Linked DNA regions of Homo sapiens. The protein of the gene in region 1 interacts with the protein of each later gene in a pairwise test. Each region holds a gene or a part of one and is shown in the gene's direction. Other genes may lie near its edges.

The links.
Region 2: the proteins of NGB (region 1) and C1orf94 interact in binary tests that used the Homo sapiens proteins (3 or more experiments, as listed by UniProt).
Region 3: the proteins of NGB (region 1) and OTOS interact in a two-hybrid assay, tested with the Homo sapiens proteins (one large-scale study listed by BioGRID).

Annotation. Positions count from the first base shown.
Region 1 is NC_000014.9:77,264,983-77,268,206, reverse strand, and holds the end of NGB (neuroglobin), read left to right. Parts: intron 1-1,536; coding exon 1,537-1,671; 3' UTR 1,672-2,724; downstream 2,725-3,224. UniProt on the Homo sapiens protein: Monomeric globin with a bis-histidyl six-coordinate heme-iron atom through which it can bind dioxygen, carbon monoxide and nitric oxide.
Region 2 is NC_000001.11:34,200,850-34,204,576, forward strand, and holds part of C1orf94 (uncharacterized protein C1orf94), read left to right. Parts: coding exon 1-183; intron 184-1,234; coding exon 1,235-1,410; intron 1,411-3,727.
Region 3 is NC_000002.12:240,138,453-240,142,126, reverse strand, and holds OTOS (otospiralin precursor), read left to right. Parts: upstream 1-1,468; 5' UTR 1,469-1,507; exon of another isoform or gene 1,508-1,622; coding exon of another isoform or gene 1,623-1,643; intron 1,644-1,682; 5' UTR 1,683-1,764; coding exon of another isoform or gene 1,765-1,800; coding exon 1,801-1,858; intron 1,859-2,038; coding exon 2,039-2,065; intron 2,066-2,772; coding exon 2,773-2,957; 3' UTR 2,958-3,101; downstream 3,102-3,674. UniProt on the Homo sapiens protein: May be essential for the survival of the neurosensory epithelium of the inner ear.

The DNA of each region.
Region 1 (3,224 bases):
TTCTATTGCTATGTATCAAACAACCCTAGAACTATGACAATGCTTTCCGATTTCTCATGGCTGGGCTCAGCTGGGCAGCTCTTCTGCTCCACATGGTGTAGCTGGAGTTACTTGTGTGTTATGTTTAGCTGGGAGCTCAACTGAGGCTAGAATGTCCAAGGCCTGTCAGCCTTTGAGCTCTGTCCCTGTGATTTGTTGTCATTCACTAGTCTAGCTGAGCTTCTTTATAGAATAGCAGCTGAGTTCCAAGGGGGAGTTTTTAGAGGACAAGCCCCAGTGTGAAAGTGCCTATAAAGCCTCTGCTTGCATCACTTTTGCTAATGTCCCATTGGCCAAAGCCACTCACATGGATAAGCCCAGTGTCAATGTGGGAGGACCCTACTCAAGGGCATGAATCCTTGAGGTGTAGCCCACTGGGGGCGACTGATATGACAGTACACCACACAGTCCAGTCACCTTGCCAGATGGTGAGCACCTTGAGGAAGGAGCTGTGTTGGTCTTGTCCTCCTCTCCATCCCCAGCACCAGCATAGTGCCTGATCTACCAGGGCTACAGTGGATATTCAGTTAATATTTGTGAGATAAATAAACCTTATTTTATTATGAGTAATAATGGCAAATGAGAGCCATTATCTTTATTTATTTATTTACTTACTTATTTATTCTGGGGACAGAATCTTGCTCTGTCGCCTAGGCTGGAGTACAGTGATGTGATCACAGCTCACTGCAGCCTCAACCTCCCAGGCTCAAGTGATCCTCCCACCTCAGCCTCCCTCATAGCTGGGACTACAGGCATGCACCACCATGCCCAGCTAATTTTTGTATTTTTGGTAGAGATGGAGTTTTCCCATGTTTACCAGGCTGGTCTCAAACTCCTGGGCTCAAGTGGTCTGCCCACCTCAGCCTCCTAAAGTGCTGGGATTATAGGCGTGAGCTACTGCACCTGGCCTATTATCATTGTAGGTTTCCTGTATACAGATGCTGTGCTAAGAGCTTTTTCTGGATTATCCCATTTAATCATCCCAACAGGCCCAGGAGTTGGAGCTTCTACTTTCCCTGTATCACTGATGAAGCAGCTGAGGCTCAGAGAGGTTACATAACTTACCCAAGGTCACCCAGCTGATGAAGGGTGGAGTCAGAATCTGTACTCAGGTCTATCTGGCTCCAGAGCCCAGGCTCTTAACCCCATCATTGCTGCCTTGCAGATGAGGAAACTCAAGTCTGGGAGCAATGACTTGGTTTGGTCTAAGCTGGGAGGTCCCAGGCAATGTCTTGGCCCCACTCATGGGGTGGTTGCAAGACCAAGACAGGGGTGAAAAATGTGAGGATATAAAGCCTCACATTTAGAGGGAAAGGTAGACACAATGTGATACCCAAGGATTTGGGTAGGACCCTGCTCAGGAAGCATGGACTCAATGCAGGAGAGGAAAAAAGGCCCAGGAGCCCTAATCAGTCCTAGGCCTCAGTTTTCTCACCTGTGGAATGGAGCAGTGCCTTTCTGCCTTTGGAAGTGACAAGGTGCCCCTTGCCTCTGCAGACAGTGGGTGAGTCTCTGCTCTACATGCTGGAGAAGTGTCTGGGCCCTGCCTTCACACCAGCCACACGGGCTGCCTGGAGCCAACTCTACGGGGCCGTAGTGCAGGCCATGAGTCGAGGCTGGGATGGCGAGTAAGAGGCGACCCCGCCCGGCAGCCCCCATCCATCTGTGTCTGTCTGTTGGCCTGTATCTGTTGTAGCCCAGGCTCCCCAAGCTTCCCTGCATCTTGGTCCTTGTCCCCTTGGCCACACTGGAGAGGTGATGGGGCAGGGCTGGGTCTCAGTATCCTAGAGTCCAGCTGCAGAAGGAGTGGCTTTTCCTCCAGGAAGGGGCTTCTGGGTGTCCCCTCATCCCCAGTAGCCTCTTTCTTGCGTTTCTTTTTACCTTTTTTGGCACTCCCTCTGACCCCGCGATGAGTGTTTTGGTGGCAGAGGTGGGATGAGCTGGAAAGGTATGGAGGTGGGAGAGGATGGGGCTCTTCTGTCTGTCCTGCTTCTTCAGGTGAGTGCAGGCCAAGGCGGGGGTGAGATGGCTGAGCTTCCAGCGCCTTCTGTCCTGCCTGCCCAGTCCCTTCACTGCTTTCCTGCCCCAAGATGGCTTGCTTTTCACAAATAAAGAGAAAGAGCAGCTTTAGCCTTCTTGGTGGAATCCCAGGCAGTGGGAGCAGAATCAGAACTGCCAGGGAAGGGAAGGGGGACCTGGGTCTCAATGGGTCTCATTTGAGTCTCGCGGGCTGTGCAGATGCCCTGACAGAGTCGGTTTCCTTTGGCGGCATTCCCTTTCCCTCATTCAGCACTTCTGCTGGGAACTCCCTGACTATTCCGCTGCTGCAGGAACCCAGCTAGCTGGCCAGGTGGGGAGGGGCTGGGGACCGGCCAGGAAGGAGGGGTGACTTCATCCCAGAGAGACCCGAGTTCCCCCAGCCCTTCATCACCAACCCGCTCCTGCAGGAGTGAGTCTTACCTCCCCTGGCCCTCCTTTCTGGCTCAGCCTGCAGCGACTGTGAGGCCACAGCTCCTCAGATTCACTGCCCGCTGTGTGCCAGTACTCAGGCAGCTGGAGAGAAGAGAAGGCAGCAGCAGAGGCCCCCGCCCTCACCCCAGCCATCTGCACTTGTACCATTTGCTCTGTGCTGACTGTGGTCCTATAAATTCATGAGAAATAAACTGGTTCTGTGTGCCTCTCTGACCCTCGGGCCTGATCTTTTCTTGGGTCTTGGCCTGTGCCAGATGAAGCTGCAGGGCAGTGGATCTCAGGACAGGATGGGAGGATGGAGTCAGGGAGGCCAAGGCTGGAGTGGGTGGAACAGGAGGGAGGGGCCTGGGAGGAAGCTCTGGGAAGCCAGTGGCAGACATCTGTGGGGTCTGTGGCCCAAACTGGCTGGCAGACCACAAACCAGCTCTTCTTCCTCCTGGGCACACAGCTGGATGTCATGCAGCCACCCTTGCAATTAGGTGGGGCATGTGACTGGGCTCTGGCCGCTGGACCGTGCAGATGTGTGTGCCACTCCGAGGCCTGGTCCCCCAAAACTCCTGCATGCTCCTCCATGCTCTGTCATCCTTCTGCTGGTGTGATACAGACCTCACAGAGACCATGAGGGCCACGTGTTGAACATGGCAGAGCCACAGGTGAAAGGAGTCCTGACCCTGAATCGCTGCTTGGAGGAAGGTGCCTATTAATCAGAATCA
Region 2 (3,727 bases), on another chromosome or scaffold:
ACGCCTGTGGTGAGGAGGGTTGCTGTGACGCAGTGGGCACCGCATCACTGACCCTGCCGCCCAAGAAACCTACATGTCCAGCCGAGAAGAACTTGCTCTATGAGTTCCTTGGGGCCACCAAGAACCCAAGCGGGCAGCCGAGACTTCGAAACAAAGTGGAAGTGGATGGGCCGGAGCTGAAATGTGAGCTGACCTACCCAGGGAGGGATTGGAGGGGAGGGGGTTGCAGTGACCCTCACAGGCTTCAGGGTGGCTCTGTCACCAAGTGGCTGTCTTATCTACTGCCTTTCTAGAGGTGTCAGTTTTTAAACCCATAAAATGGGGGCAATGACTTTCTCCCCATATCCCTTGTTGGGAATACAGTTGCTAGAGAAGTGTAGTTGGCTTTCAAGGGTCACGTCAGCATTATTAATGGTCACTTCTGAATATAGCCCTGACCCAGCATGTATTATATCCTCTCAAATTGCCCAAGCCAAAACAAAAGATCCTTGCTTTAGATTATTTCTATATTGAGATTATGTTCCCGCTTTCTTTTCCTACAAGGGTTCTAGTCAAACCTCTTTTCCCAAAAGGATGCCAATAAGGGGAAACTGAGGACCCATTTCTGATTTTATAAGCCCCCACAACATCTTGTAGAAAGGAAGAATCCAGGATTCTGATCTTGAAACAACTCAACCTAACTTCATTTGTTTAGACCAATTTTGAGTCACTGCATGCTGAATTATTTAATGTTTTAAAATATAATTTTTAAAATTCCCATATAGATACAACAACCTGTGAAAGTTTCTTAGTGTTGCCAAATATATGTCCTTAGGGAGGGGCTGCTTTAATCATTTGATAAGGATGAATTCCAATGGCATAGCAATGGTTCACATAAAGTTGGATTTTTCCAAAGCAGTTGAAAGAATTTCATTTTGTAAGTAGGTGAAATATAGGCCTAGCAATCTGGCTTATTGTATTCCCTTGCTAAATTGCCTTCTTTACTAGTGAATGATGGAAAGAAAAGCTCCAAGCCAGACCTTCTGGGATTTTCATCCCTTCCAAACTGGCAAGGTGTGAACTAATGATGTTTACCTATAGTTGGAAATGTACTAGAACTTTGAAGAACCCTCTTGGAGCTTAAAGGACCTGACCTGTGAGACTGTGAATCCCTAAGGAAGTTGCGATGCTGAAGGTGTCCTGGCCTCTCCCTGCCTCCATCACTGACCCGCTTTGCCTCTCCTGTGACTTGCAGTTAACGCACCTGTGACGGTTGCTGACAAGAACAACCCGAAGTACACAGGGAATGTTTTCACTCCACACTTTCCTACAGCCATGACCTCAGCAACCCTGAACCAGCCACTCTGGCTCAACCTGAACTATCCACCTCCACCAGTGTTCACGAATCACTCTACCTTCTTGCAGTATCAGGTCAGTGAGCTGGCCTGGCTCTCCTGTGGACATCCACGGGGGTTTTGGCCACAGAGAAGGAGTGGCTGGCAGGGGGTCTATTTCACAGAGTCTTTAGACTCCTCTGAATCCCTTCCCTACATGCAAGAGGCTTCGCTGGGGCTATGGAAGGGCGCTGTCAACTTGTCAGCTTGTTGGTTATTTTTTTCATTGTAGTCACATCAGATCTACCCCTTGGTTCATGTGCATGCGTGCGCACACCTCCACACACACACACATATGTATATTTAGTCCTAACTTTCCATTGTCCGAATTCCAGTTCACACTGTGCTCTTTATTGCAGAGTCTCTTTGCTAGTTGTGGCTGGTTAAGTGCTTGGGCTCCCAGGAGAAGATGATGTCACAGTCCTTGTTTCCCACCTCTCTCCTGTGACTTCCTTTGAAGTTGGATGACATATATCCCAGATTATTTGGGACAGTCCCAATTTAGGTCTTCTGTTCCAGAATAATATGAATGGCATCCCTTTTCACTCTCAAGTGTCCTGGTTTGGACAACAAATTACAGTCAGCCCTCTGTATCCATGGGTTCCAAATCCACAGATTCAACCAATCTTGGATGGAAACTACTTGAAGAAGAAAACAACAACAACAACAACAAAATACAACAACAAAAAATAATGCGAGTAAAAGATAATACAGTATAATAACTATTTACATAGTACATTATTAGGCGTTGTTAGTAATCTAGAGATTAAAGGATACAGGAGCATGCGCATAAGCTACATGCAAATACTATGCCATTTTATATTAGGGACTTGAGCATCCTCATATGCCATTTTATATCAGGCACTTGAACATCTTTATATGTCATTGTATATCAGGGACTAGATCATCCTCATATGCCATTTTATTTTATTTGAGACAGAGTCTCACTCTATCGCCCAGGCTGGAGTGCAGTGGCATGACCTTGGCTCACTGCAACCTCTGCATCCCAGGTTGAAGCGATTCTCCTACCTCAGCCTCCCAAGTAGCTGGGATTACTGGTATGTGCGCTAATTTTTGTATTTTTAGTAGAGACTGGGTTTCACCATGTTGGCCAGGCTGGTCTTGAACTCCCCGCCTCATGTGATCCACCTGCTTCCACCTCCCAAAGAGCTGGGAGTACAGGGGTGAGCCACCGCACCCGGCCCTCAAATGCCATTTTATATCAGAGACTTGAGCATCTTTGTATGTCATTTTATATCAGGGACTTGAGCATCCTCAGATTTTGGTATCCACAGGGCAGGGGAGGGAGGGTGGTCTTGGAACCAATCCTCTGAGGATACCGTGGAATGAGTGTATATGGCCACCTTACTTAAACTACACCAAGCAGTCTTAGCTTTGTACCAACCAAGGTGGCTTGGCACACATTCTTGTTCTTGGGATCATAGCTAAAGGAGAAAATCAATGGCCAGACACAAAGGGACAGTGAAGCACCTGTAGCAGGGCTGGAAATTCTACTCACAGAACTTATTTATGCAGGGAAAATGTAGTTTCTTTATTTTGTCGATTTAACTTAATATCCCTTAAGAGCTGCCGCCCACTGGGTAGAAGGAGGGAAAAATTAAATAAATGTCCACTCTGGTTTAAGCCTTAGCCCAATCCAATAACTTAAATAGTCCCTTTAGGTAGAACTCAATTTTTTCAGGAAAGATTCTCCATGCCTAAGATTTCTGTCTTCTGTTCCTCGCACTGGCTTCTCTCCAGAATTGTATGTCATTGTATGGGGAAGGGCAGGAACTCAAATTTGTGCACTCAGGACCTTGGCAATTTGCTGCCCCAGCCTGGCCCAGCACAGCCTGAAGTGAGAAAGCAAAGAAGGAAATACTTCCAACTCGGCTTGTCCTGTTGCTATGTCCCTTCCCCGCTCTCCACTCCTAGGAACCCTATGTCATTCTTTCCCTTTCAACACAGCACAAACCTTATGTCCTATTGGGAAAGGGGATTGGCTCTTCTGCATATAAAGACTCTTCAAGCTGGTCCACCAGGCTTAGTTTCTGAATCTTAAAGGAACTTAGCAAAGTCTCTCTCTGTTTTGTTTTCAAGCTTTTTGTTTGTGTGTGTGTTTGCTAAAGAGAACAAGTACCCGTCCCCTCCCGAGGGAGGGAAAGCTCACACCCCATTGTGGAGGTGAGAGGTTGTGATGAAAGGTGACCTAAGAAGGAAGCTGAAGTGGACCAGTTTCATATTAGTAGTCTATTGTCATGGACCTGTTCATATCAGTAGTCTATTGTCCTTACACAGGTCTTGAAATGTCCTGTTCATTGATTCGCTGACTCCTTTACCAATATGATTCTACC
Region 3 (3,674 bases), on another chromosome or scaffold:
TGGTTGGTAACTGGAAAGTGTGCTGCCGAATCTGCGAAAAGACAATGACGAGCGCAGAGCTTAAATTCCCAGCTCAGGGGGCAGGTGAGGAACCAGAAATCTTCTGAGCTGTGCAGGGAAGGGCGACGAGCAGGCCTGGGTCCTCACCTCGGCACCTGGATTTCAGAGGGGCCACTGCCCCTAAGCTCTATGTGCCAACAAATGGTTGTGCTAAGCACCTGCTTCCTCCTGGGGGTCGGAGATCTGCACATGCACGAGTCAGAGGGGGCTGCACGACCAGCCCTGGGCTCTGAGGTTCTGAAGGGCTCCCCTCATGGGGAGATTCCACAGGTGTCACCACAACGTGGTGCTGGGGAATGGAGAGCATCCCGTGGGGTCCTCGAGAGGATGCTGAGTCCCACGAGTCCTCCTAGGGCATCTTCCTAGTGAATCATTGACCTGGGTGCTCTTGGTGACCCCGAATACAACTGCCCTGAAAGAATCCATTGCCTCCTGTAGCCACAGGCTCCAGATTTCTGAAAAGGAAACCCAAAATCTAATCCGTGGATGGCTGCCTTACCATCTGAATTAAATTAACCACCTCTCTGGGTATCTTTGGTTAAATGTATGGCATTGTGTGGGGAAAAATGAGCCCTTAATCATTTGGATGGGGACATGTGAGCAGACTGTGATGAACTCCAGAACCATGGGACACATGGGTGAGGAGCTTCCCAGAGTCCTTAAACAGCCCCCAGGGTGACCAGGAATGACAGGGGAGACCGCCACAGCAAATTCGGCCCCTGATTCAGTGGGGTGGCGGGACCCCAAGGAGCAGGACCAGGAGGAGGCTCTATGTACTGGAAAGACAGGTCAGCATAGGAACCGATGTGGTCAGTGGGGCAGCTGTGTAGTCAGAATGGCCCTGCCCACAGAGACCCTTGGTGCTGGCTGCTGGTGTCCCAGGGTGGGGACAGCCTCCTGCCCACCTACAGACTGACACTTTGGATCGCAGGGAAGCTCCCACCTGGAGATGGAAGTCCATCTTGACCCCACACTTTCTGCTGGGGCTCTGCTCAGTGGACGTCCTGCAGGCAGGTCCCGCTGACGGGGGCTCCTCCTGCCTGCTGGTTTAAGTGGAAGCAGCGCTGGAATTATTCAGCTCCTCCTCACGAGGGAGGAAATCTCAGCCAGCCCCGGTATTGGACGTAGGATCGCTCCTTGCGGAGAGTAAACTGGGTTTGTTTCAAGTACCAATGCTGAATTCAGTCCTAACAATTTCAGAAATGGCCGAGCCAAGATGTTTTTCTCTCAGTTTGAACTTTGGATCAGATTCCCAGAAATTGACACTCTGATTGTGCCTGCCAGCAGGGCGACAGGAGCCCACAGTCCTCCGGTGGGGATGAAATATTCAGTTTGACTGTTCAGGCAGGTGACGTGTCCTTCCTCATCTGCAGCCCTTCTATAAAGAGGACTCTTGAGCTGGCAGCAGAGCCCATCCAGGCAGCACGGCTGGCTGAGCAGAGACAAGGTAAGCTCTGGAGAGGCCAGGCAGAGTGGAGGGGGGTGCAATTTCTTAAGTCATGGGAATTAAGGCCAATTGAGGCAGGGATTTCACCTCCAAATAGTGGTTTGAAACCACTGAAATGGAAATTGCTAGGAAAACAGTAAGAATTTTTTTTTTAAATCCATGCCATTTTCCCCAGGGCTGCCCACACTGGGACTGGTAGAGGAAGCCGGCCCTGACGGATGGGTGGTCTCGCCCTTCCTGGGTTCATCCTGCTGCAGGTGGGCCTGAGTCGCAGATCAGGAAGCACCGGGAAGATGCAGGCCTGCATGGTGCCGGGGCTGGCCCTCTGCCTCCTACTGGGGCCTCTTGCAGGTGAGGGGCCGCTCTGGAGGGAGGCAGCCACCAGGACCCCCGACAGCCCTCCTGTTCTCTCCCCTCCCGCATGCATCCCCAGGCTGCTAGGAAACCTTAGAGCCCTGCAGCTGGTGTCGGGTGGGCCCAACCGGCACCTGGGTGGTCCTCCTGGGTGACAGCTCTTCTCTTCCTTTGCAGGGGCCAAGCCTGTGCAGGAGGAAGGAGGTACCGTTCTCCAATTTCTTTCCTTTCATTTGCATAAGTAACTGGTATGCAGCGGGGAGAAACTGCTGGGGAGAGCAGCAGCTTCTTATCCCAAGCAGACGCATCAGGGGCCCTGGCTCAGCTCAGGCCCAAGCATGGAAAACATGGCCCTTGAGAGCCAGCTTGGAGCTGTGCAAGCAGAGGGTCTATGAGCTCCTTCCAGCTGGGACCCTGCCCTCCAGCCACCAGGGAACACACTGGGCAGGGGGAGCCAGGGCCCCATGACCCCTGACATTCCCACTATCAGACCTGGGTTCCAGCCCCCAGGCCCTCCCAACTCTGAGCCCTAGCTCAGTCCAGTATCTTCAGGGCTGCTCTTGCCCAAGCTTTAGGACAGGTTATACGGGGGGTAGCGGAGTGGGGTGTCTGTGCTCTGTTCTGAAATCCCAGCAGGTGGCTGCTGGTGCCCCACACCCTCCCCACACAACTCCTTCCTCAAACAGGACAGGGCTTCCCTCCCTCTCTTCCCCTTCTTCTTCTTCCTCTGTCTCCCCGACCAGATATCCCCAAGGATCTGAGAGGGGATGGGCTCAGGCCCCCACTCTGGGAAGGTTGTATCACTGTAGGTAGAGCTGGGAACCATCCACTTGCCTTGAGACCTCTGAGGATGGTGTCTCCAGGCAGGACCATGGGGACAGCCCCCAAGGCAGGTGTCTTGTGTCTTTCAGACCCTTACGCGGAGCTGCCGGCCATGCCCTACTGGCCTTTCTCCACCTCTGACTTCTGGAACTATGTGCAGCACTTCCAGGCCCTGGGGGCCTACCCCCAGATCGAGGACATGGCCCGAACCTTCTTTGCCCACTTCCCCCTGGGGAGCACGCTGGGCTTCCACGTTCCCTATCAGGAGGACTGAATGGTGTCCAGCCTGGTGCCCGCCCACCCCGCCAGGCTGCACTCGGTCGGGCCTCCACAGGCATGGAGTCCCCGCAAAAACCTGGCCCCTGCAGGAGTCAGGCCTGGTCTCACGCTCAATAAACTCCGGACTGAAGATGCACAACCAGCGTTGTGGGTTGTCTTTCAAGGACAGCTGCGCTCAGGCCCCACTTACTTTATTTCACAAATGAAGCTGGTTTTATTTTGATTCCTGGGGAGCACTTTCATAAACTCTTTCATAAATGTGCAACATTTCCATCCACATTGGCATCAACAAGGGATTTTATATCCTGGGCAGGCTCAGGACTGGCTTTCTGTGTCTCTCACTCATCCATTTCCCACAATGATCCTAGGGGGCACTGCAGTTCCCCCAGATTACGGGTGAGGAAACTGAGGCAGAGACATGCGGTCACAGCCTGACTTGTTAAGGTCACACAGCTGGTTAGGGGGTAGCTAGATTCTAGTCCAGGCACCCCCGCTCTGGGCCACTAAGCTGGGCAGCACACAAACCCACAGTCAGGGCTAGGCTGACTCCACACCATGACACACCCCTGGGAGCAGTGCCCAGGAGGCAGCAGGAAACGGAACTGAGAAACCCCACCTGTATCTGTCATCGGTCAGGGACAGCGGGGCCTGGGCAGGCTCTGTCTTCCAGGGACGGCTCTAGGCTTTGAGGATGCTGGGAGGAAGGGGGCTT